Regions from separate parts of the Homo sapiens genome. Here regions 1 and 2 are each linked to region 3. The links come from fine-mapping of genetic effects on plasma protein levels. A gene starts in region 3. Each other region holds a variant in brackets. All regions are shown on one strand. Distances are between the middles of the regions.

Region 1 (8,186 bases), 580 kb after region 3:
CTGCGTGCTGGGAGAACCACTACTCTCTTCAAAGCTGTCAGAGAGGGACATTTAAGTCTGCAGAGGTTACTGCTGTCTTTTTGCTTGTCTGTGCCCTGCCCCCAGAGGTGGAGCCTACAGAGTCAGGCAGGCCTCCTTGAGCTGTGGTGGGCTTCACCCAGTTCGAGCTTCCTGGCCGCTTTGTTTACCTAATCAAACAACTAACTCGGCAATGGCAGGCGCCCCTCCCCCAGCCTAGCTGCCACCTTGCAGTTTGATCTCAGACTGCTGTGCTAGCAATGAGCTAGACTCCATGGGCATAGGACCCTCTGAGCCATGTGCGGGATATAATCTCCTGGTGTGCTGTTTTTTAAGCCTGTTGGAAAAGCACAGTATTAGGGTGGGAGTGACCCGATTTTCCAGGTGCCATCTGTCACTGCTTTCTTTGACTAGGAAAGGGAATTCCCTGACCCCTTGTGCTTCCCGAGTGTGGCGATGCCTTGCCCTGCTTCGGCTCATGCACGGTGCGCTGCACCCACTGTCCTGCACCTACTGTCTGGCACTCCCCAGTGAGATGAACCCGGTACCTCAGTTGGAAATGCAGAAATCACCCGTCTTCTGCATTGCTCATGCTGGGAGCTGTAGACCAGAGCTGTTCCTATTCGGCCATCTTGGCTCCTCTCCTGCCATGTATCTCTTAAGAGTACCTCCAATAAGTATTTTGCACACAACTCCCTGTTTCCAGAGAACTGATCCAAGACATATTTGAAATTACATGTGCATAAGGATAGTTTATAATAGCCGAGGATTGGAAACAACATAAATGCCCACAGAAGCAGACAGGTTAGATGGACTATGTGGCCTGTAAAGAGAATTATATATATCTCTGAAAATAATACTTATGGTAAAAGATATTGAGTAAAAAGTGCTTACTTTTTACCAGGCACTGTTCAAAGATCTTTATGTGTAGGTGCTCTTATTGTGCCCCGGTAAAGATGAGTAGAGAAAAGAATAAGGAAGAGCCTCCCAGGTAAATGAAATGGCATATTTGAAGGTGCAGAGGCAAGAGCAGTCTTGGAATATTTTTAAAACTGAAAAAATAATTATAGTATTATAGAAGCATAGAATGTGAGTGAAAAAAAGACCAGAGATGGGGCTGAAGAGTTAAGATGGAACTAGAAGGATGAGGTCACATGACTGCATTTCAGGGACCAATTAGGGGGTTGTAATTCTGATCCTAGTAAGAGACAACAATGGCTTGAACTAGGATAGTGATGAAAGGGAACAAATTCATGGAAATCCATAAGATAAAGTTAATCCAGTTTGGTAACTTAGGTGTGGGAAAAGGTGAGGCAGGTTTGGTTTTAAGTGTGTGCTAGTGATGGGGGTGCTGTTTGGTGTTAGGTTTAGACATACTAAGTTGAGGATCCCTCATAGACATCCACGTGGAGATGTCAGGAAGACAGGTGAGTATGTAAGTTTTTAATTCAGTCCAAAATGGAGATTGAGTTGGCAGTTTATACATGTTATTTAAAGGCAAGAGACTAGATGAGCTCACTCAGGATATGAGTGTTGGTAGAGAAGAGAGGATTGTTTGGTCAGTTATATACACAGTTATATATAAACTAATACACATATGAATAAAAGAAAATCTGTGAAACCTACCTTTAAGGGGAAGATGAAACAGAAGGAGCACAGCAAAGGTGACTGACTAGGAGTGTGGAGAAAATGGATAGACAATCAGGTGAGAGAATGTGCCCTAGAAATCCAGAGGTGAGAATGTTTAAGAGACCACTTGCTGAAGATATTTTCAAGGCAACTGAAAGCTGGCCCCTTGAGATTACCATTTATGAAGTCACTTGTGACCTCAACAAAAGCAGTTTTGGGTGGTGAAGACACACTCTTGTGTGATAGATTGAATAGTGGAAGTGGAGAGAAAAGGCATAGAATGAGGAAGAAAGAGAGGGAGGTAAGGAGAGTGGGAGGAAACAAAGGAAGGGAGGGAGGAAGGAATGAATGAAGGCAAATGAATGGGGTATGTGTGGAAAGGTGTCATTAGGAAGCAGCACATAGTATTCAATAACAAATTCCCCATCTAAAATAATGACTATGAAGATCATAGCTGTATGGTTTTGAGCAAGTTACTTAACCTCTACTTTCTTCAGTAAATGTGAGCATTAAATAGTTTAATATATTATGAAATGCTTATAATAGTGTCTGGTGCATACTAGGCACTGGAAAATGGAAATTCTTAAAATAAAATAGAAGCTATCATCATTATTTTTAGCATCATGGAACTATCATGAAGCACCACACTCTCAAAAGACAAGAAAGTGAGCCTCAATTTGAGATAGATTTAAAAAATCTCATTAGTACCGAAAACACATAGATAAATTAAATAAAGATTAGAGAAGAGCTGCAAGGGTAAGAATTTGTGTCCTTATTACTTGTTGTTATTTGTCATCCTAATTACCATCAATATTGTTTAACAGGCAGCCTGATCTCTGAGGGAAGCAGGGCGACTGAATTTCTGACTACAAGTGAAATAAATGTTCACTCCTGGGAGGTGTTATTTCTTTCGGCTCCAAGGAACCAGCTGGTGATATAAAAACAGTTAATTGGATTTTTCCACTTCCCTCAGAAAAAGCTTCTAAAAGAATTTATTCTCTTTTTATATGGGAATATTTTATTCACAAAAATCTTCTTTTAGTATCCATCTATTCAAGACTTTAAGAGGAGTTTGGTACTCCATCTATTGGATCCCCCCAGGCCATTTTGACCCGCGTGAATCCCAGTGATTATTGAATGATTTTTCTTGTTGGAAGGGAGGCAAATGCTTTTAAGAAGGTCAATACAAAATTTTTTCCAAAAAGGAAATAAATGTTAAAATAATTAATGGTTCTGTGAACTATAGCCCTTATTCAGAAAAAAAAAATCAGTTATAATACCTCTATTTACATTTGCGATGTCCAACACAATAGCCACATACGGCTGTTGAACACTTGAAATATGGCTAGTGGAGCTGAGACACTACATTTTAAATTTTATTTAATTTTAATTCACTTAAATTAAAAACTGATACTTGATTGAGTTATTTGAAAATTTTAAGTAAGTTTTGAACAACTTGGGCATGTGAATCTACTTTTCATTTCTTTTTTTTCCTAGCAGGCATTTATTTATTTAAAATTGTATATATTTCATGTACAAAGTGATCTTTTGATATATACATACATAGTGAAATTGCTACTGCAATCAAACAAATTAACTTATCTATCACTTCAAATAATTATCTTTAAAATTTGCTAGAATCTATTCTTCTAGCAAATTTTCAGTATACTATACAGTATTATTAACTATAGCCCCCATGCTATACATCAGATCTCTAGATTTATTTATCCTATGTAACCACAAGTTTGTACCCCGTAACCTACATCTGCCCATTTTCTCCCCGTCTCTGCCCTTGGTAAACACCATTCTACTCTCCGTTTCTATATATTTGACTTTTTTAAGACTTCACATGTAAGTGACATTATGCAGTATTTTTCTTTCTGTGTCTGGCTTATTTTACTTAACATAATATCTTCCAGGCTCATCCATGTTGTTGCAAATGGCAGGATCTCCTCCATTAGCAAAGGCTAATAATATTTCATTTTATATAAATGCCACAATTTGTTTTGCTTATTAGTCTCACTTTATTGTTTTTTAGCAAAAATGCTTAAAATAACAATATTTAAAATTAATAAGTCAAAGCATATTTTATTTATGTAGCGTCCATTTTAAATTATAATTTAATAAGTATGACATGAAATCTAAGATAGCCACTATAAGGTAGAATTATTCTCAACTGAACATATAGTTAATACAATTAACTAAATAGCTATCATTTTAACTTAATATTGCTGGACTTTTTAAAAAATAATGTCCATTTTTTTAATATGATTTACATTCTTTTTTTTTTTTTCTTTGAAACGGAGTCTCTCCGCGATGCCCAGGTTGGAGTGTAATGGTACAATCTTGACTTACTGCAACCTCTGCTTCCCAGGTTCAAGCGATTCTCCTGCTTCAGCCTCCCGAGTAGCTGGGACTACAGGCTCGCACCACCACGCCCGGTTAATTTTTATATTTTTAGTAGAGACGGGGGTTTCACCATATTGGCCAGGTTGTTCTCAAACTCCTTACATCAAGTGATCTGCCCACCTCAGCCTCCGAAAGTGCTGGGATTACAGGCATGAGCCACGACGCCTGGCCAATTTACATTCTTTACATATTTGCCTCCTGTTCTTTTGTATTTGCTTTTGGAGATTTAATACCACCAGGTGACTCATTTGGATTTTGTTCTTTGTCTTAGAAAATTAAAAGCAACCATGTGGTTAACTTCACTATTGCATGATTGACTGAAGGTGATTTAAATTTAGTTCTTGGGATACACATAGTTTGCTAAGAAACAGAATTGGCAATCACATGAACCTTTTGCTTTGTTTTCATTGAATCATTTATCTATTTTCTTGCAGTAAATATTTAATTAATCTTTGAATA[T/C]TAAATACATCAAGAACCACTATACATTTCTTTGTTAATATTTGAACTAATCGTGTAACATTGATTTCAATGGTAATTATATTTTCTTTCAGAGACTGTATCTGATATATTTTTCATGAAAGAATAACCTTTGTGGGGTGAGAGCAAAACTTTAAAAGATACTAAAGTACGTTAATAGGTTTATTTGTGCCTTGGTTTCATTTTCGGGTCTCTTAATATTTATGAATATTGCAAATGTTGTGGGAATACAGTATGCATAATATGGGATCATAATGTGTTCAAATAGTTGAGTAGCCCTACAATAAAATCAAGAACAAAACAGAAAGAAGTTTAGAAATTATAACTGATAATTTTCAGAACTACAAAGGTAAAAGTCTTAACATTCTCTCATCAAATGGCTTTAAGTAAATTTCCTAACTTCACTTAGTCTGTCTCTTTACATGAAAATATGAATAACAGTACTTACAGGTTATTGTGATAATACAGTGAATATTGTATGTAAAATTGCCTGGCCTGGTTCCTATCACAGGTGTATTTAATAACAATTTTTTTCTTTTATTTTCTTTTTTTAAACAAACTGTAGAAATATTCCTTTTAATGGCTTCTCTACAGTTTGTAGCCATAAGGCAGGAACTATTTCTACTACTTTGACTATCTTTTATTTTCTTTTTCTTTATTAAAAATATTTTTTATTTCAATAGTTTTTGAGGTACAAGTGATTTTTGATTACATGGATGAATTGCATACTGGTGAAGTCTGAGATTTTAGTGCACCCATCATCCAAGTAATATACATTACACCCAATGTGAAGTGTTTGTTTTGTTTTTGTTTTTGTTTTTGAAACGGAGTCTCGCTCTGTCAACCAGGCTGGAGTGCAGTGCCGCGATCTCAGCTCACTGCAAGCTCCACCTCCCGGGTTCAAGCAATTCTCCTGCCTCAGCCTCCCGAGTAGCTGGGACTACAGGCGTCCACCACCAAGCCCGGCTAATTTTTTGTATTTTTAGTAGAGATGGGGTTTCACTTTGTTAGCCAGGATGGTCTCGATCTCCTGACCTCGTGATCTGCCCGCCATGGCCTGCAAAAGTGCTGGGATTACAGGCGTGAGCCACAACCAATATGAAGTTTTTATAGCTCACCCCACCTCCCACCATCCTCCTTCTGAGTCTCTGAAGTCCATTACACTACTCTGTATGCCTTTGAATACCCATAGCTTAGCTCCCACTTATAAATGAGAACATATGGTATTTAGTTTTCCATTCCTGAGTTACTTCACTTACAATAGTGGCCTCCAGTTCTATCCAAGTTGCTGCAAAAGACATTATTTTATTCTTTTTTATGGCTGAGTAGTATCCCATGGTGTATATATAGCACATTTTCTTTATCCACTCATTGGTCAATGGGCATTTAAGTTGATTTCATATCTTTACAATTATGAATTGTGCTGCAATAAACATACATATGCGGGTGTCTTTTTGATATAATGAGTTCGTTTCCTTTGGATAGATAACCAGTAGTGGGATTGCTGGATAGAATGGTAGATTTACTTTTAGTTCTTTAAAAAATGTTCATATTGTTTTCCATAGACGTTGTGCTAATTTACATTCCCACCAACAGTGTATAAGCATTCCACTTTAACCACATCCACACTAAGATCTACTGTCTTTTGAGTTTTATTTCATGACCATTATTGCAGGGGTAAGGTGGTATCTCATTGTGGTTTCAATTTTCATTTCCCTGATGATTAGCAATGTTGAGCATGTTTTCATATGTTTGTTGATCATTTGTATAACTTCTTTTGAGAAATGTCTGTTCATGTAATTTGCCCACTTTTGATGGAATTTTTTTACTTGCTGATTTGTTTGAGTTCCTTGTATATTCTGGATATTAGTCCTTTGTGAGATGCATAGTTTGCAAATACTTTCTTCCATTCTGTGGATTATTCATTTACTCTGATGATTATTTCTTTTGCAGTACAGAAGCATTTTAGTTTAACTAGGTCCCATTTATTTATTTTTGTTTTTGTTGCATTTGCTTTCAGGGTCTTAGTCATGAATTTTTTTGCCTAGATCAATGTCCAGAAAAGTTTTTCCTAGGATGTCTTCTAGAATTTTTATGGTTTCAGAGCTTAGATTTAAATCTTTGAGCCATCTTGAGTTGATTTTTGTATAAGGTGGAGAGATAGAGATCCTGTTTCATTCTTCTATATGTGGCTAGCCAGTTTTTGCAGCACCACTTATTAAATAGGGTTTCCCTTCCCCAATTTATATTTTTTTAATGCTTTGTCAAAGATCAGTTGGTTGTAGGTATTTGGCTTTATTTCTGGGTTCTCTATTCTGTTCTATTGGTCTATGTGTCTAGTTTTATACTGGTATCATGCTGTTTTCGTAACTATACTCTTGTAGAATAATTTAAAGTCTGGTAATGTGATGCCTCCATATTTATTCGTTTTGCTTAGGATTGATTTGGCTATTCAGGCTCTTTTTTGGTTCCATATAAATTTTAGGATTTTTTTTCTAATTCTGTGAAAAATGATGTTGGTATTTTGAGAAGAATTGAATCTGCAGACTGCTTTGGGCAGCATTGTCATTTTCATGATATTGATTCTTCCAATCTATGAGCATGAGATGTGTTTCCATTTGTTTGTGTCATGTATGATTTCCTTCAGCAGTATTTTGTAGTTATTTTTGCAGAGATCTTTCACCTCCTTGGTTACATATGTTCCTAGGTATTTTAATTATTTTTTGGCAGCTGTTGTAAAAGGAATTGAGATTGAGTTTTTGATTTGGCTCTCAGCTTGGTTGTTGTTGGTGTATAACAGTGCTACTGATTTGTGTACACTGAGTTTTTAATCTAAGACTTTACTGAAATTATTAATCAAATCTAGGAGTCTTTTGGAGGGAGTTCTTCAGGTTGAAATGAAACAATGCTAAACAGCAGTGTGAAAGCATTAAAAAGTATAAAACTCATTGGCAAAGAAGACAAAAAAGAGAATGCTTTATTACCATAACAGTAGTGGGTAAATCCATTATAATCCTACTATGGAAATTAAAAGACAAAAATATTAAAAACAACTATAACTAAAAAAGTTAATGGATATATACTATAAGAAGTTGCAAATTATGACTTCAATAGCATATAACACAGGGGGAGGAGAGGTAAAGGCAGAGTGTTCTTTCATGCAAGGGAAGTTAATTGTTATTAGCTTAAAATAGACTATCAAAGTATAAGATATTTTATATCAGGCCCTTGGTAACCACAAATAAAATAGTTATAGAAGTTCACAAAAGAAAAAGAGAAAGGAACCCAAACCTAGCAATATAAAAAAATGGCAAGAGAAAGAGGAACAAAAAAACCATGAGCCGGGTGCAGTGGCTCACGCCTGTAATCCCAGCACTTTGGTAGGCCGAGGCAGGCAGATCGCCTGAGGTCAGGAGTTCAAGACCAGCCCGGCCAACATGGTGAAACCCTGTCTCTACAAAAATACAAAAAAAATTAGCCAGGCATGATGGCTGGTGCCTGTAATACCAGCTACTCAGGGGGCTGAGGTGGGAGAATCGCTTGAAACGGGGAGGCGGAGTTTGCAGTGAACCAAGATCGCGCCATTGCACTCCAGCCTGGGCAACAGAACAAGACTCTGTCTCAAAAACAAACAAAGAAACAAACAACAACAA
Region 2 (8,186 bases), 530 kb after region 3:
CAACATCTGAGCCAGGTGCTGGATGTTGCCCTCAGACCAAAATAAAATAACCGAAACCAAACACCCTTATGCGTGCGTTCAGCACACCTACTCAAACTCATCTGAGACTCCATTTAGGCTCAGGCTGCCCAACGTTCACCACCACCACTGTTACTACCACACCATTTGAATAATTCTGAGAGAAAGGTTAACAAATTTTCCCAACCTTCAGCATCTTCATCTCATTAATGCTGTTAATCTTCTACATATGTGGGGATTTGGCTTTGTGAAACACTTGCTGCAAGAGAATCTAGGGAAGCAAAGGATGAAATATTTGTTCTCAATTTGATAAATAACCTACCAACCTATTGATGGCTGTATCACAGGAATAACACTACCACCACCAGAAAAAGCTACCAAACAAATCAACCCTCATGTCAAATCTTCTTGTCTGTATGACACCAAGTGCGAGAAGAGCACTAGGAGAAGTTTTAAACAATAAAGCATATGTGAACAAGGTGAGTGTAACAATGATCATAATTTGGACCACAGAAAAGGGGTATGGGGAACTTCTAGGCCTAGTAAAAACAACAAAGGAGGTCTGTGTCACAGTCAATCCAGTGTGTACCCTCTGCCTGTTGTGTGGGTCACCTTTACACCAGTATCTGCCAGGCTCCAGTATGCCTCAGGGAACAAAGAACAAGATAACATCCAGTGTCATGTGTGCATGGGTGCACGAATATCGACATGAAATCACATGATTTACTACATAGAATGTAGTAAGGGCTGTGTCTGAAGCAAACAAAATATCTTGGAAAAGGAAGACTTCATTCTTCCCAGCAGCACTGGAGAAAGCTTTTCACTGAGCCCATTTAATCCAAGTATTGAAGGATGTACAGGAGACCTCCAGGAGGGCAAGTTGTAAGTAAAGGAGAGAATTCTAGGCTAGAGGGGGGAGTTCATTTAAATGTGCAAAAGTAAAGAAGCAGATGGTGTTCTGTTATAATATTCCCCAAGTATGTGGAAGTCAACATGGTTGGTACTTAGCAGCGCTAAGTGAGGTGGGAGAAGATTTTAAGTGGCATGCAGACACTACATTCAATAACACTGAATCATTTTGGATTGAAAAACATTATCTACCTTTTAATTCCTTTCCATCCTCACCCAGGAAACTTTCTCAGTTGGCTCCTAGGATGCTCTAACCTTTCTCTTAAAAGCTAATCTTCCTTATTAACAAATGAGCAGGTTTCAGGCTTGGAGGTTTTACAGGCAATAGTATCTACCTAGAATTTAATACTGTTTTGCTTTTATTAATTATTTTTACTTACGGCTAATGACAATGGTTTTCCATTTACAGTCATGATATGAACTTTTTTTCTAAATAAACTCTAATAATGTGATTTAAGTACAAATACAGAAAAATATTGAGGAATTAATCATACAGATGTGGTAAACAGTAAAAATTATGACAGTGCTATGTGAATATAGGAAATTTTAGAAATCTCTCAAGGAGAAAAGTTAGCAGGGTGATATTTTGCTATTACTAGATTGTTCAGGGATCAAGCGTGGTAAAATGAATAAAATTTAAAGCCATGAGATAGAAATTCACATCTTCCTCTGGTACTTTCTAGCTGCATGGGCAAGGGCTCTTAAGGGCTCTAAGTCTCAATCCCTTCACTTTTATATCAAGGATTAGTTATACAAGAATGTAAGGATTAGAGGCAACAAATATGCAGGTCATAAGATTGTAGACATTATTAACCTCCTTTATAACTTCCCAACAAGCTTTCAAGGTTAGTTATGATGAACTCTGACCTAATTTCTCTAATTCTGTGAGACATTAGGTCTGCAGAGCTGTAGTTGGCTTTAAAAAGAAATCAAATATATTATTTCTCTTAATTATTCAATTCACTTATATAAGAATTTAAGAACTCAGCATAATACTCACTCCCAGCTGTTCCTAGGTTGTCCCAAATGGTTGTACACTGGGGAAGGGACTACCCACCCTGTCCAAGTCAGAGGTTTTATGTTAAATTCTAATGGTCTTCTGAATGCATTTTGTAATACTTCTTCAATAAACTAAAAACAAAGAACCATAGAACTACACAAGCAATATAGCCACATCTCTGAAAACTTACAATACTGAGAAAAAAAAAATCACTCAATTCACATTCCACAGTTGTGTTCCCATCCTTTCAGCCACCTCTCTTCCTTCCATAATAAATGAGGCCTGAAGAAGCCCGTGAACATTAAAAGATTGGCAAACAAAAACTTATACAGCCCTACCACTTGGTTCTCTAGCTTTCTACATCAAAAGCAAGTGCAGGCTGAAACTTGGAAACCAAAAGTTGGTCTTTTAATGGTGACACCTTGCCTAAGTAAGATAAACTGGACCAGCCTAGCTCCCTTAGTGAACAGAGTCTGTTTGAATTTCTGGCCCTTGTAAAATTATTAAAGCAGGGCATACAAGCAGTTTCCTCTCAAACAGTAGCAATGATTTTTATTTTCCAAATTATGCATTGCCTTTTTGGGAAACCTGTCATGAGAGGATTTTCTGTCTGCTAAACCTATCTTGCATTTCCTGGAAGTGTTTTATTAAGTGGGTCATCTCATATCACAAAGGAGAAAAAAATACAGGACACTGGTGATATCTCCTGCATAGTTTTGCAGTTCTAGTTACAAGCACAATGCACAAGCAATTTATGACTGCTGGGTCTTTGGTATGGCTATACATTTGTCCTTCACATTTGTATACCACCGCCACACTTCTTCCTAAATGAATCACTAGATTTAAATGGATCAGATATTGCTACTTCTTCTAACAATTTGGTAAAATTCATAAAAATCATTTTTAGAAATGTCTTTTTTGGAGATCAAAGAAATGGAATGATATAAATCTCACACCATAAAAATGACTGCATGATTTTAAATGAGATGTGATCAGACATTTTAACAGTTTTAAAAATGCTTATATTCCCAAGTGATAGTGTCTCCTGCTGGAAATCATAGCTTTTGATTGGCTAAAAAGACTGAATATGGCAGTGCTCTACCTCCTACCTTTTACACACACAAAAATGACCAACTGCTTCTGAATGATCTTTATAGCTTGTTAATGATCTGTTTAAGGTTATTATAGTTTATAAAATGTTTTTTGTTTTGCAAATTCTGGCTATGTAAACATAACCATAAATACAAGAAGACAAGTGTACTTCTAGGGTCTGATACTTTCTTTGTTGAGATATTAATAGTGTCAAATTTTGTATCTGAGGCATTGGAAAATGATCAAAGAATTCAAAATTTAACTTTGATAGAGTAGCTCTTTAGAAGAAAGAAAGCATGTGGCTTCATTACAGAACTCCGCTTAATCTCAGGATCTGAATGTTCCAAGTTTAAATAAATTCTCACAAGCCTGCTTGCTTTCTGATTGCCAAGTCTGAACAGCCACAAGCAGGATCTGACCTGTACCTATAAACATGTAAACCAGCACAAATGAAATCACTAAGCGACGTAAAAGCAACAAGGAACAAGCACCCGTTCATTTTAAAGATAATATAAACAAAATGATACCTGTTCTTCGGCTCTTTGGTTTCTCAGCGTCGATAAATATCTCCTAATTGCATGGAGAGGATATTTTTTGAAATAAGAGAATCTAGATGGAGGCAACAGACTATCCATAGTGAGGAAAGCAAGAGGGTCCTTGTCTGCACCTCCTTGTCAGCAACCATATGAAATTAGAAACTTAGCAATTCCTCAGATGCCTAAAGATTTGTTTGTAGCTCGACAACTTCCCTCCTACAAACAAAGCAAATGTTCTCCTTGCTGTTTCCTCTTTTGGGTAGAGTTCCTGGTGAAACCAGACAGCCAAGTATGAACACTGTCTAGAAGCGTCCAGAAATGCAATGCCCAAAGGGCAATAGGAATTCAGGGGCTGGTCCACAGAATGCAAATTGCTTAGTGGTAGTGATGCGACTGTCCTATTTCTAGCAACAGTGTTCTGTTGCAAGCTATGTTAATATTAGCTAGCTGGTGACTTTCCATACCCACAGACTCTCGTGAGGCTTAATTTTAATTCTTCTGACACTTTTTCTAGTTCTTAAACAGGGCATGAGATGTGGTTTTCCCAGTTTCCTTCTAGATTTCTTATCATCATGCGCACACACAGACACACAGCTCAGTTGCGGTCTGAGCTGGAAAGTGTTGATTCATTCAGTCTTGAGAAGACTGTTATAGGGGACTTCCAAAAAAATTTAACAAATTACCTCACTCTTCATTGTTATCAAGGAGCTCGTTGTCAGCACTGAAAACGTTTGGCTTGCACTGTGATGCATTATGCAACATGCCCAGTAACCAGATACTTTACATTAATTGAACAATAGCTGCAAACAGATTCTGTTCTGAGTTAAAAGCCTTCTCTCCTTGAATCCTTATCTCAAATCCACAGGCTGAATTCAGAAACATTAACTTTCCCTAGGCTTTTAAAAACTATGAATGTAAGTGAGAGAAAATGTTTTATGTTTACTTTCTAACTC[T/C]TATTAAAAAAAAGATTCATGCTTAAAAAAAAAAGAACAAAAGAAAAATAATGCCAAGAGGTCTGTGGTCTTAGAGGACATGAAATCATAAAATTTGAAAGTTCAATATTTTCTTAATACTTTATAGAGATCACAGGGTTTTTCTAAACTAGGGCCCCAAATAGACATTACTATTTTATTATCCTTTTAAACTTTACAGTAGCTGGTTCCTTTGATGGAAACATTTGGTCACTTCTGTGAGGGGCTGTCATGTAGAAAACAGACTGGACATCAACAAAAATTATGTGACCCAGAGTTTTCTTTAAGGGTGAAAGCAAGCCCTGGTTTTTCCCTCTTCCTAGAGAGCACTGCAAGTTGCGGGGAAGAGGAGGTAGGCAGAGCTGGGGAAATTACATTGCAGCCTTAGTTGTCCCCCTGGACAGCCTCCCTGACACTCCTGGATGGGTCACCTGCCTTCAGGGAACACACTTGATGGCCTAAACCTGGTTGTGCTGCAAGCAGCCCAGGCCATCTGTCAGGTTGGCATTGGGCCCACTAGCAAGGTGATCTTCCAGACTCACCAGGACCAGCCTGGCAATTCCAAGAAGTCATTTACATATTGCTACTGGAGCTGGCTCCTAGGAGGAGGCCCTGCCCTTCTGTCACCTCTCCAGGTGCACCATGCTACATGCATACAGAGGCTCTGCACGTCCTTCTCTGTATGCTGGAGACAGCTGACTCTAATGAGGGCAAGAGAGAAGCAGTGTGCTTGTGAAACACCTGAATGCTAAGGGCACAGTGCTGCATGCTCCCTGCCAGTTCATGACCCAGAAAAACAAGAAGTATAGAAAGCCAGATACCCTGGGCCAACTTGAAGCCCTGGAAAGAGAGGCAGCCCTAGGGATTGTGGGGGCAGGGAAATGTGTCGTTCATACGAACCCTTGAGATCCACTAACTGCCCTTTTGCTTCTCTTTTTAAAAATATCAGAACCTTCAGAGATGCCTCTTTATTGTGGGCAGAAGCCAGCAGCCTGCTAAACACCCACAGCATGACTGGTGATCCAATCTTTTCCCAACAGACGAACACAAAGCAGACTTCATTTCCACAGTTGTTTCAGGATCACTTTTTCTGGGGCTGAGGTGAGTGATGAAAAGAAATGGGGAGGGAGAAATGCAGCATCCCCAAACAAAAACTGTTCTATTAGATTAAGCACAAAAAAGAAAAATGGGTGAAACAAATTCAATTAAAATTCCTTTAGGAATTTAATTGATAACGAATATAAATCGTATCTAATACTAATTGGGCCCTTTGGCCAGGTGATGTGCTAAAGTCTTTACATGTATTATCACATGTAATCCTACAGTAACATATGGGTAAACTAAAGCTCAGAGAAGGTAACAATTTGCTGAGGTCGCACAGCTGCAAAAACAGAGGCGAAGGGGATTCTAACCAGGTAAACCTGACTCCAGTATCTGTATCCAACCTGTATACTGCAGAACCACTTAACCCACTCCCAGAAATGAATTCTCAAGGACCTATTAACTTGAAGAAGGAAAGACATGGTGTTACCTTGTTAAAGAGGAATACAGGCCAGGCATGGTGGCTCACACTGGTAATCCCAGCATTTTGGGAGGCCAAGGCGGGCAGATCACTTGAGGTCAGGAGTTTGAGACCAGCCTGGCCAACATGGTGAAACCTCGTCTCTACTAAAAATACAAAAACTTAGCTGAGTGTGGTGGTGCGTGCCTGTAATCCCAGCTACTTGGGAGACTAAGGCAAGAGAATCACTTGAACCTGGGAGGCGGAGGCTGCAGTGAGCCCAGATCGTGCCACTGCACTCCATCCTGGGCAACAGAGCAAGACTCTGTCTCCAAAAAAAAAAAAGAGAGAGAAATACAAATACAGATGGCTAGGAATTTGCAGACTACGATTGGAGAGCAAGTACGTCTTCTCAAACAATCATACAACCTCCTGTCCTGAATTCTCTATAAATAATGTTCATATCATTACCTACCTCTTAAAGATTCCTTTATGAAATGATTCTGGTGATGCTAAAAAGAAGCTGTATTTGTAGATACAGATATTCTGCTTCCCAATTTTTGAAAACTACTACAATCTCAGTTTCTGTTTGACATAGGTTTCAATGGTCCGTCTATATTTAATAAAATATGAATGTGGGAATTTATGCACCCTGTTTCTCAGGTGGTAGGCATAGTCTCCTTAAGTTTACAGTATGGACATCTCTGCCATCACAGCTTGGAGAAGTGCCCTTTTTTTTTTTTTTTTTTTTTTAAGGCGTGCCATTTTTTATTGCCCCTGTGGCTCAGGTGCCTTGATGAAAGACAGCTGACCAGAGTCCTGGTGGCTACAATCTATATCTGCAAGGACTGAAGGGCCCAGTGTTTCTTCCACAAGTATATGAGGTATATTTTGCCCTCTGCAAAGTAGCACAATAAAGAGTGGAAGCAGGCCGGGCACGGTGGCTCACGCCTGTAATCCCAGCACTTTGGGAGGCCAAGGAAGGCAGATCATGAGGTCAGGAGTTCAAGACCAGCCTGGCCAAGATGGTGAAACCCTGTCTCTACTAAAAATAGTAAAATTAGCTGGGCGTGGTGGTGTGTGCCTGTAATCCCAGCTACTCAGGAGGCTGAGGTAGGAGAATCACTTGAACCTGGGAGGCAGAGGTTGCAGCGAGCCGAGATCACGCCATTGCACTCCAGCCTGGGTGACAGAGCAAGACTCTGTCTCAAAAAGAAAAAGAAAAAAAAAAAGAGTGGAAGCAGTTATCTGTTATTTTGCAGAACTCACTCCCACCCCTCGTCCTCGATAGAAAAATAACTAACAGAAACCATGAATCCAGGAAAGTCATAGGTTAAGGCTGTAATCCCACAATGAAAGGATATTTGTGTGTTCTCTGTGCTTTCTAATAATAATCTGCTTTTTTGCAAATGGCTTAAAGTATGGGGAATCCCAAATTCTTCACTTGAAAAGCAACATAATGAGGCAAAGCCAACACCAGGAAAAATAGTGGTAAGGGAGTGAGCAGAAAGATATTTTACAGTTTATTCTTTTTCAAATGTTAAAGAAGATAGGATGAAAATGTAGGTTTGTGAAGTCATCTAGCACTGTGCATTGCACACAGTAGGTGTTAAGTTAACATATACCAATGCATATTCATTGAAAGAGAATGACAAAGAAGAAAGAATTGGATCCAAGGGTTAAATACAGGTTGAGAAACATGAAACAAGAATTGAGAAACAGTGTCTCCAGGATACCTTTGAATTGATGAGATTTTCAAATTGCATCAGGACAAAAATGAAAAGCCCGCTAATCTCCTCCTTCCAATCAGTGCTAAGAGTTCCCATCAGGAAAATGACTCCATTCTCTGGGAATTAATCCAGCCTGGATACAGAGTGAAGGGCCGGCAGTTAGGATGATGGAGAAGCTGCTAGCTCAGAAAACAGAAATCATTTATTATTATGAATTCTACTGAGAAATCACTCTCATCCCACTAGATCTGTAGATACTGGTCCAGTCTTACACTCCCCTAAGGACAGCATCAAATACAATCAAGAGAGGAATGGGAGGCATTTAATATTGCTCATCAGGGCAAGTTTATGCAGCACCAGATTCCACCTTATTGCATGATTAAAGCACTTCTGCTACTTCACAGTACATTTTCTTAGTGCCCTCACCAC
Region 3 (8,181 bases):
TCCTCTGCTCAAAACATATGGTACACACTTCTCCTTCTTTTCATCTGGTATCATGTATCATCTCTCAGATCCAATAAGAAAACATTCCCACGTCCTTCCCTCCCTCCCTAGTACCAAGGTCCTCATCTCAGTTTTCATGGGTCCATGGAGGGCTGCCTCTAGTGATGAGCTGGAATCTTAAGGCCTGAAATAGAGCCAGACTGCAGCAGTCCCAAGTCCTGGAGAGCTTCAAGTAACTGCTCCCGCGCAGAGCCAATAAAGGAATTCTCCAGGAAGGTAGGCAGGCCTCCTACACCATCCCGCAGGGTATACAGGGGCACTCGCACCAGGCCCAGCACCTGTAAAAGGAAGGAGACAGGAGACACTAGGGCCCCAGGTGGCTCATTCCCTTAACTCCATCCTTTCTCCAGCAGATCAGGCCTCACCCCTTAATACTCCAGCAGAACCAGGCCCAAGGCTCACACCTCACTAAAGCCTAGTGGCCCAACCTTCTGCAGGAAAATGACCCAAAACATATTATCTAGCTCTATCAATTAATCTTTCCCACATCTGCTTCTAAACCTCTAGTGGCTACTGCCTCAAAGATGTATTCATACCCTTTCACCAGTGGTTGTCAAAATGTGGTCCTCAGATTATTTGCATCAGCATTATTTGGGAACTTTTGAAAACTACAAATTCTCAGGTTTCCTCTCCCCCCGCCCCACCACCAATGCAGGAATGCTGAGAGAAATCGCTATTTTAATAAGACGCCCCGATGATTCTGCTACCTGCCAAATTTTGAGAACCACCTTCATACATAATCTATCTACTAGCCCTGCCTGAAATATCAGGGCCACATCTCCTACACAAGAAAAGCAAACCCCAAGAATAAAACCTAGGTTGCCACACCTAGATAATGTGATAATCTATCACACTGTCAATAGGGAACAGCAGAGAGACATGGATGAGTGTGTTCTAGAAAGGATCTCTCCTGGTAAAGGGTGGGAAAGACCTTTACAGAAAGCCCAGGTTGGCAGTACTAATTCAGAGTATAGATGATCACGATCCCAACTCCACCAAGAAAGCTGGGGAGAGGGCAAGGTCAGAGGGGCAAAGACTTTTCTCCAGGGATGCTTTCTTGGGGGAGAGAAAGCTTTGGGAGAAGAGGAAATTGGGAAAGGGACAGAGTCCCAGGCTGGTCCCACCTCCAGCCCGTGGTCCTTGGCGCGTGTTGCGCCGGCCTCCACAGCCAACAGCTCCTCGAGCGTCAGACGCTTGGCATAGAAGTGGGCCACAACGCGTGGCCCTGACCCGACGTGGGAGCTGCGGTAGTCAGTGCGCTCCACGCGGAAAGCGGCAGCCGCTTCGCCCAGCTCCTCGCGCAGCTCGCGGTTCAGCCCGTCCTCTAGGCTTCTGTCCTGCGTGTCCACGAATCCGCCGGGGAAGCCCAGGCGTCCATCGAAGCGCATCTGCATCTGCGGGAGGGGGAAGCGGGGATTGGCAGGGGCGCCCCAGAGGAGACCACCAGAGAGGGTGCGGGGCTCAGGCAGAAAGTGGCCGGGCGCGCCCCCTTCTCACCAGTATGGCGTAGCGCAGCGGGATGCGGCCGAAGAGCATCCCAGGGTCCGGCGCGTAGAGGAGAGCGTGGCACGCATGACGCCAGCCCGACCCCAGCGCCAGGGCCTCGCCTAGCTCCAGCCTGCGGGCTCCGGCCATGGCCGGACACTGCTCCTCTGCTGTCCCGAAGGCCCAATGGGCAGAGGGGCGGGTCTCACCTCGGACCAATCCGAGCCTGGGCGGTGCTGCAAGGCCCAATCCCTGCAGGGATAAGGGGAGGAACCTAGGCGCCTGGGGGCGGGGCGCCGCGACCGGTGCGGGAGGCAGCTAATCAGGGCGGGGCTTGCAGACCGGGTTGAAGTCCAGGGCCCAGGAACCCTAGGGTAACCGAAAGCAGCCTCTGGGTTGGGCCTGCGGTGGGGCGGGGCTAGAGGTGTGGCCGCGCCCTAAACCTGGCGCAAGGCCGGTACCTAAAGGCTCCTGGGAGCCAAAAGAGCAAGTCAGGGAACTAGCTTTGGTTGGGTTCGGTGGTACACAAAGCACAAGGCCTGGGTTGGGGTTAGGAGGAAATGAGACTTGCGGCGGGTCGGGGCTGAAGATGTGGCAGCGCCCTGAACCTGGAGAAAGGCTGGTACGTAAACGCCTGCGTCGCAATCTGGAGTCAGCTGGAGTGTCCCGGCAGGTGAGGAAGAGCTGGGGCGCTCAGTTGAGTGCTGGGAGCCAAAGAAGTAATAACTACCTTTGGTTGGGTGTGGTGGTACACAAAGCACAAGGCCTGGGTGGGGGTTAGGAGGAAATGAGGCAGGGTTGGCCTCAGACACCAAGGCCTATCCTAGGGAAATGGAGATGGACAGGCGCCATGGTCTGACAACTATCTTGAGTGGTGAAATTGAGGGGACTTGGTGACTGAGTGAATGGGGAAGAGGGAGCGCTGGGCTAGTGGTGGTTCCGAGTTTCCTGGATGTGGTGTCATTTTCTGAGAGGGGGAGAGTAGGAGAAGGGTGAGCAGTGATAAGTGTAGTTCTAAGGAATTGGGGTGGCCATAGGCAGTGGGCAGCTGATCGTGGGGGTCTGACGCACAGGGAGTGGCACATAGAGAAGTCACAGGGCAGTGAGATTTTCAGGGGAAGGGTGGGGGTGGAAGGAGCTGTGAGTGAAATCCTGTGGCACAGGACTGGGAGTGAGGAGGGGTGAGAGATAGAAGAAGCCTCCTAGGCTTTCTAGTCTTTCCCTCAAACCCCCTCAGACCTCTGAGCTATGAAGGAGGGTGGGTTACCCTACCACAAGGGCAGAGGCCTACTCAGGGCCTGATGCTGAGATGCAGGATCCCTCACTCCAGGCCAGGCCTTCCCCACCCTGCAGAGCGCCCCTACACCAGGTGTCGATATTGATTATGCAATAGAAAGCAGGAGGCAGCTCCTTGAGGGGGGCTGGGCATAAACTCACAGCCTGTAAGTGACGGCATATGGTGGGAAAGAGTCCGGACCCACCCAGAAACAGGTTTGTGACCTTAACAAGTCACTTAACTCTCTCAGATCCCAGCAGCTCATCTGTTAAGTGGAGATGATACCAACCTATTAGGGATGTTGAGATATGTTAGGCACTTAGAACAGTGCCAGGCAGAAAGTAAATGTAGCCATTCTTGGAGTTGAGGGTTGGGGCACAGTGCTATGTCTTACGTTGAGGAGCCAGGGCTGGGCACATACCTATAATCCCAGCACTGTGAGAGGCGAGGTGAGAGGATCATTCAAGGTCATGAATTTGAGACCAGTCTGGGCAACATAGCGAGACCCCGTCTCTACAAAAAATAATAATAATAAATAAAGACCCAAGTGTTGGAACTGAGCTGCACTCATCACGCTCCAGTGTTTGAAGGAGGGATGAGCTGTATGACATCATCTTTCCTAGCTTAGTCTTCTGCGTTGTGGGGCAGGGATATTATCTAATAACATGAAGCAACTGCATTAAAGTGATGAGTCTGTAGGTGTGATACAATTGTCACTGGCCTGCTAGAGTTCCAGGGGGTTTGGAAATAGCCCTGCTTTAACATTAGAGTCACCTCGCAAAAAGCTTCTAAAAATTTTTAAAAGCTGCCACTTTTTCCTACCACAGACCAGTTGAATCAGAATGTATGGGGTCCTACAGGGACATATGCGGTTTTTAAAATATGTTTTAGGTAACTAATAACCAGGGTGGAGAACCGGGGCCTTCCCCCTTCCACTAGCATTCCAAAGGCGACTTGGTTTTTCTCCTAGATAGGCTACCTTTAATGATTTAGGATCAAACATGCCCTTTCCAGATCTTCAAGCTGTTCTTTCTTTCCTGGTTACTTGAGACTTTAAAGATGGACTTTTCAAGATGACTTCAAAGATTTCAAAGGCAACATGAAAAACTGTAAAACCAAGGCAACAGCTGTACGAGTTTTCATGATTTTGGAGACCAGAGCTTTTTCTAGATGAATATGATGAATATGGAAGTCCTTTAGAGCCCCCAACCTTGCCATCCCTTTCAAATCCTTCTCTGCCTCTGCCCCACCCCCACCAACCATCCCCCATTCCACTATCCTAAGGCAGAATGCCCAGGACTCAAGGCTGCAGGTAGAGGGCTGAGCCATGTACCTAAAGAGCTGTTCCAAGTTCATAATGGTACCTGGAACCAAAAATAACTCTGTAGTCAGCATGGGAAGATTCTAGAAAACCAATCTATTATTTTAAAAATAATAATGAAAAGAACTAAGCATTTATCCTGCCTTTTTTATATGAGCTCTTCCTCAGGGCCACCAAATAGTTAATGAGAGGAAATTTATTTCACAAAGTATTCCAGGTAATCAAAGAGGAAGGACAGAGCCAATCAAAATTTTAACATTTGTTAAACTTTAAAGAATTAATGGAATCTAGGGAATGATCATCATTGGTTGCTAACATCATGAATAGACAGTTGTTATACACATTGTGATAAAAGAGCACACTACCTCCTTTGGATTATCTCTGCCAAAATATTGAACTGTCATCTTGATCTAACAATTTATAAGAAATTCAAAGGAATACCTATTTAAAATATTAGGAAGAGACTAGAATGATCTATGTAGTAATAGATTAGAGTTTGAAACATCAGTATGAATTCATTTTTAGCTTGATGTAGATATGGCTATATATATACACATACATACATGCACACATATATGTATACATACAAAGGTTAGTGTGCACAGATATTTCCTTCCTCTGTCAGCTGAGTGGGCTTAGAAGCAATGATATTCCAGTAGCAACAAACACACCAACTGCCACATTTTGGTTTCTAATACCATTTTCCATAAAAGGAATCAAAGCCCTTTGGAGAAATGGCTGATTCTAACATTGGGCCAGGAAATATGCAACATGGATATACAATAAGCCTAAAGCATCTTGTGATGCCAGAAATTAAGGAAGTTCACCAAATAAAAAAGGACAAAAATCGATACTGATGGAGGTATATCAAAGAAACAGAGACACAGGGACCAGCTGAAAAAGTTCCTAGTGGCCAAAGCTGAAAGAATTTGAGCAACAAAATAAGTAGTATTGGATTATAACTTGAAGTATCAAATAAATATCTACAGGCCCATACTGATAATACAAATAAATAATGAAAATGTGTTAGTAAATAAATGGAGGAGAAGAGAAAAATATCCCGTGCAGAAGAACTGGAAATAATTCATGTAGCTACTCTGCCCTCAAGGAGGTGGAGCATAGCTCCCCACTCCTTGTGGGTTGTGAATAATGACTTCCTTCCAAAGAGTACAGTAAGAAAACAGGAGAAGAAAGGAGTAACTTTGTGGAGAAACCTGACAAACACTACCTTGAACACGTGATCAAGGTCAAAATCATCATTGACAAGTCATGTTGGTAGAATGCACCCTTAATATGAAGTAATGAAAATGGTACTTTTGTCTGTGGTTTTCCCTCAAAAAGATATAATCCCTCTCTAACCATGAGAAAAGCACCAAGCAAATCCCAGTGAAGGGACATTCTACACAATACCCAACCAGTAAGCCTCAAAATTGTTATTGTCTTAGTCCATTAGGGCTGCTGGAACAAAATACCACAGATTGGGTGGCTTAGAAACAACAAATACTTGATTTCTCCCAGTTCTGGGGCCTGAGAAGTACAAGATCCGGGTACTGGTAGATTGGGTGCCTACTGAGGGTCCACTTCTGGGATCATAGAAGATAGTCTTGTGCTGAAACCTCATGTGTGAGAAGGGGTGAGGGAGCTCTCTAGAGTCTCTTTTATAAAGTCACTAATTTCAGTCATGAGAGCTCTGTCCTCATGACCTAATAACTTTTCAAAGGCCCTACTTCCAAATACCAACACAATTGGAGTTAGGATTTCAACATAAGAATTTGAGAAGAAAAATATTCAGTCTATAGGAATCATGAAGTATAATGAAAGTCTGAGAAATTCTCACAGCAAAGATGAGCCTAAGAACACATAACATGTCTAAATGGAATGTGGTATCCTGGAGAAGAAAAAGGACATTAGAGAAAAACTAAGGAAATCTGAATAAAGCATAGATTTTGGTTGACGATACTGTATCAAAATTGATTTATTATTATAAGAAATGTTTTATAATAATGTAGATGTTAATTATAGGGTAAAGTAGGTAGAGTGTATGGGAACTCTGTACTATTTTTATAAATTTTCTGTATATGTAAAACTTCTAAAAAATAGGTTTGTTTTAAATCAGGAGAATACAAACAGTGAAATATAAACTGAACAAAAATTTAAAGGAAAAATGACCTGATTTATTTAATAAATAAATTACAAAGGGAAAAAAGGCATGGTGGCAGAATCTATACATTAAGAGATTGAGAAAACATATCAATTGAAGCAGTTGGTTTATTTGATTCCTAATTTGTCCAAACAAACTTAGTGATCATTGTTTGAGGTGCTAATAGTATGGTGGCTGTTTTGTTAGGGTTCTTTATCTGTTAGAGATACATACTAAAACATTTGTGAATGACATGATAAAAATAATTCAATGAAGGGGCAGAGGCTGAAGTTATAGTAAAATTGGCCATGAATTGATAATTTTTGAAGCTGGGTGATGATGGATCTATTAAGGACTTATGTTATTCTGCTTACTTTTACTTTTATATAGCTTGATGTTTCCATAGTAAAAAGTTAAAAATAAAAAGATCTTTGGCATCTCATGAAGTAAAGGTAAAAGTTGTCATTTACACTTGAATAAAACTTTGCATTTCACAAAATTCTTTCACAGAATCCCTTTGGTCAAGGAGAGGGAGAGAGAGGTAAGGGTCTGGTCTTACTTTTTAAGCAGGAAGAAGACTACAAACCACCATCTACCATCTGCCAGGTAATTTTAAACCAGTCCACTTAATCCCCATCAGATTTTCCAGATGCTTTGAATGCAGAGCTAAGGTTGAGAACCACTGATTTAGACAAATATACTATGGGAGAAGGGGAAGGAGGTTCCACCAGCAGAGAGCAACCAGCTAGAGCCATTTGGGGCTTATCACAAAAGACTTCTTGTCAGGGAAATTCACCTATTGAGAGACATTTTGGTTGTTTCCAATTCTGGGCCATTGAAAAGAATGCTAATAAGCAAAGCCCCTCTTCTGCTATGAAAGTAACAGTGGGCAGATATTCCCTCTCTGGCCCTTGGGTAACTGAAAGGAGGCTTATAACCAAAGCACAGCCAGTGAGATGCTCCTGCTCAGGATGTTGATTTTGGAGAAGTGACACAAGGTATATGATCAGAGTTAAGGGTTCAGTAGGCCAGTAATGAGTGCCAGTGGTGTTGGTTCCAGTAGCACAATGGTAAGTATCCAGTTTAGAAGGCTCGGGTGGCAGCATCCTAAGCCCACTATCCCTAGCGAGATGCTGGCTGTGCCTCACCAACCCTCATCCCTGCCTCATCCTTGTTCTCCAGCTTCCCATTAAAACTGTGAGCTTCCTAATACCTTTCCAATAAATTAAATTTTGTCATAAATATACCATAATCCATTTCTATTGTTTCTTTCTTTTTTTTTCTTTTTTTTTTTGAGGCAGAGTCTTGCTCTGTCACCCAGGCTGGAGTGCAATGGCACAATCTTGGCTCATGGCAGCCTCTACTTCCCAGGTTCAAGCAATTCTCCTGCCTCAGCCTCCTGACTAGCTGGAATTACAGGTGCATGCCACCATGCCCGGCTAATTTTTGTGTTTTTAGTAGAGATGGGGTTTTGCCATGTTGGCCAGGATGGTCTCGAACTCCGGACCTCAAGTGATCCGGCTGCCTTGGCCTCTCAAAGTGCTAAGATGACAGGCGTGAGACACCGCACCCAATGATTTCTATTGTTTCTATCCAAGAACATTGATGAGTATATGAGGACAAAAATACTAATCAAAAAGTCACATACAAATGAATGATTTGAATTGGCAATGAGTGACTTGAAGAAAAGGTACATGGGTGAAATTAATCTGGTCTGGAAGGTCAAAGTATAAAGAATGCTTCCCTTAGGAAATGACACTAAAACTGAGACAGACTCAAAGTTAATGAGGTAAAACGTGGAGGGGTGGAGCGGTGGGAGGGTGATGGGTAGTAACAAGGGGAAAGAAGAGTGGGAAATGCAGCGCCAGTAGCCTGAGATCAAAATGGCTTTCTTAGCTC

Which allele goes with the higher level. Positions count from the first base shown, and alleles are read on the strand shown. Strength reflects both the effect of a copy and how common the allele is.
In carriers of allele T in region 1, the plasma level of the protein whose gene starts at base 1,726 in region 3 tends to be higher than with C alone (moderate association).
As copies of T replace C in region 2, the plasma level of the protein whose gene starts at base 1,726 in region 3 goes up (moderate association).

The links. PIP is the chance, under the fine-mapping model, that this variant and not a neighbour inherited with it causes the effect. Protein levels are from antibody-based Olink assays in UK Biobank. Linkage for the fine-mapping came from a reference panel and not from the study's own genotypes, which makes the PIPs less certain.
Region 1: its variant is fine-mapped to the plasma level of the NUDT16 protein (UK Biobank, PIP above 0.99).
Region 2: its variant is fine-mapped to the plasma level of the NUDT16 protein (UK Biobank, PIP above 0.99).

What each region holds. Positions count from the first base shown.
Region 1 is chr3:130,797,107-130,805,292 of GRCh38, reverse strand. All of the region lies in intron 2 of LOC107986023 (a long non-coding RNA gene), which reads left to right. Among named protein-coding and RNA genes, the nearest start is that of PIK3R4, 54 kb to the right of the region's middle. The variant T/C (reference allele first, on the strand shown) is at 4,516.
Region 2 is chr3:130,846,289-130,854,474 of GRCh38, reverse strand. LOC107986023 (a long non-coding RNA gene) reads left to right here. Exons shown (of 3, transcript XR_001740492.2): 2 at 5,476-5,627. LOC105374108 (a long non-coding RNA gene) reads right to left here. Exons shown (of 3, transcript XR_924486.3): 3 at 7,805-7,890. It also overlaps a transcript of ATP2C1 not described here. Among named protein-coding and RNA genes, the nearest start is that of ATP2C1, 44 kb to the left of the region's middle. RefSeq lists an enhancer at 4,214-4,293. The variant T/C (reference allele first, on the strand shown) is at 4,509.
Region 3 is chr3:131,375,319-131,383,499 of GRCh38, reverse strand. NUDT16 (nudix hydrolase 16) reads right to left here and starts at 1,726. Exons shown (of 3, transcript NM_152395.3): 1 at 1,558-1,726; 2 at 1,185-1,454; 3 at 1-338. The coding sequence starts at 1,695. The coding sequence ends at 159. NUDT16-DT (NUDT16 divergent transcript) reads left to right here and starts at 2,025. Exons shown (of 4, transcript NR_038976.1): 1 at 2,025-2,167; 2 at 6,793-6,888. RefSeq lists enhancers at 718-1,286, 1,287-1,856, 2,148-2,417 and a silencer at 1,738-2,037.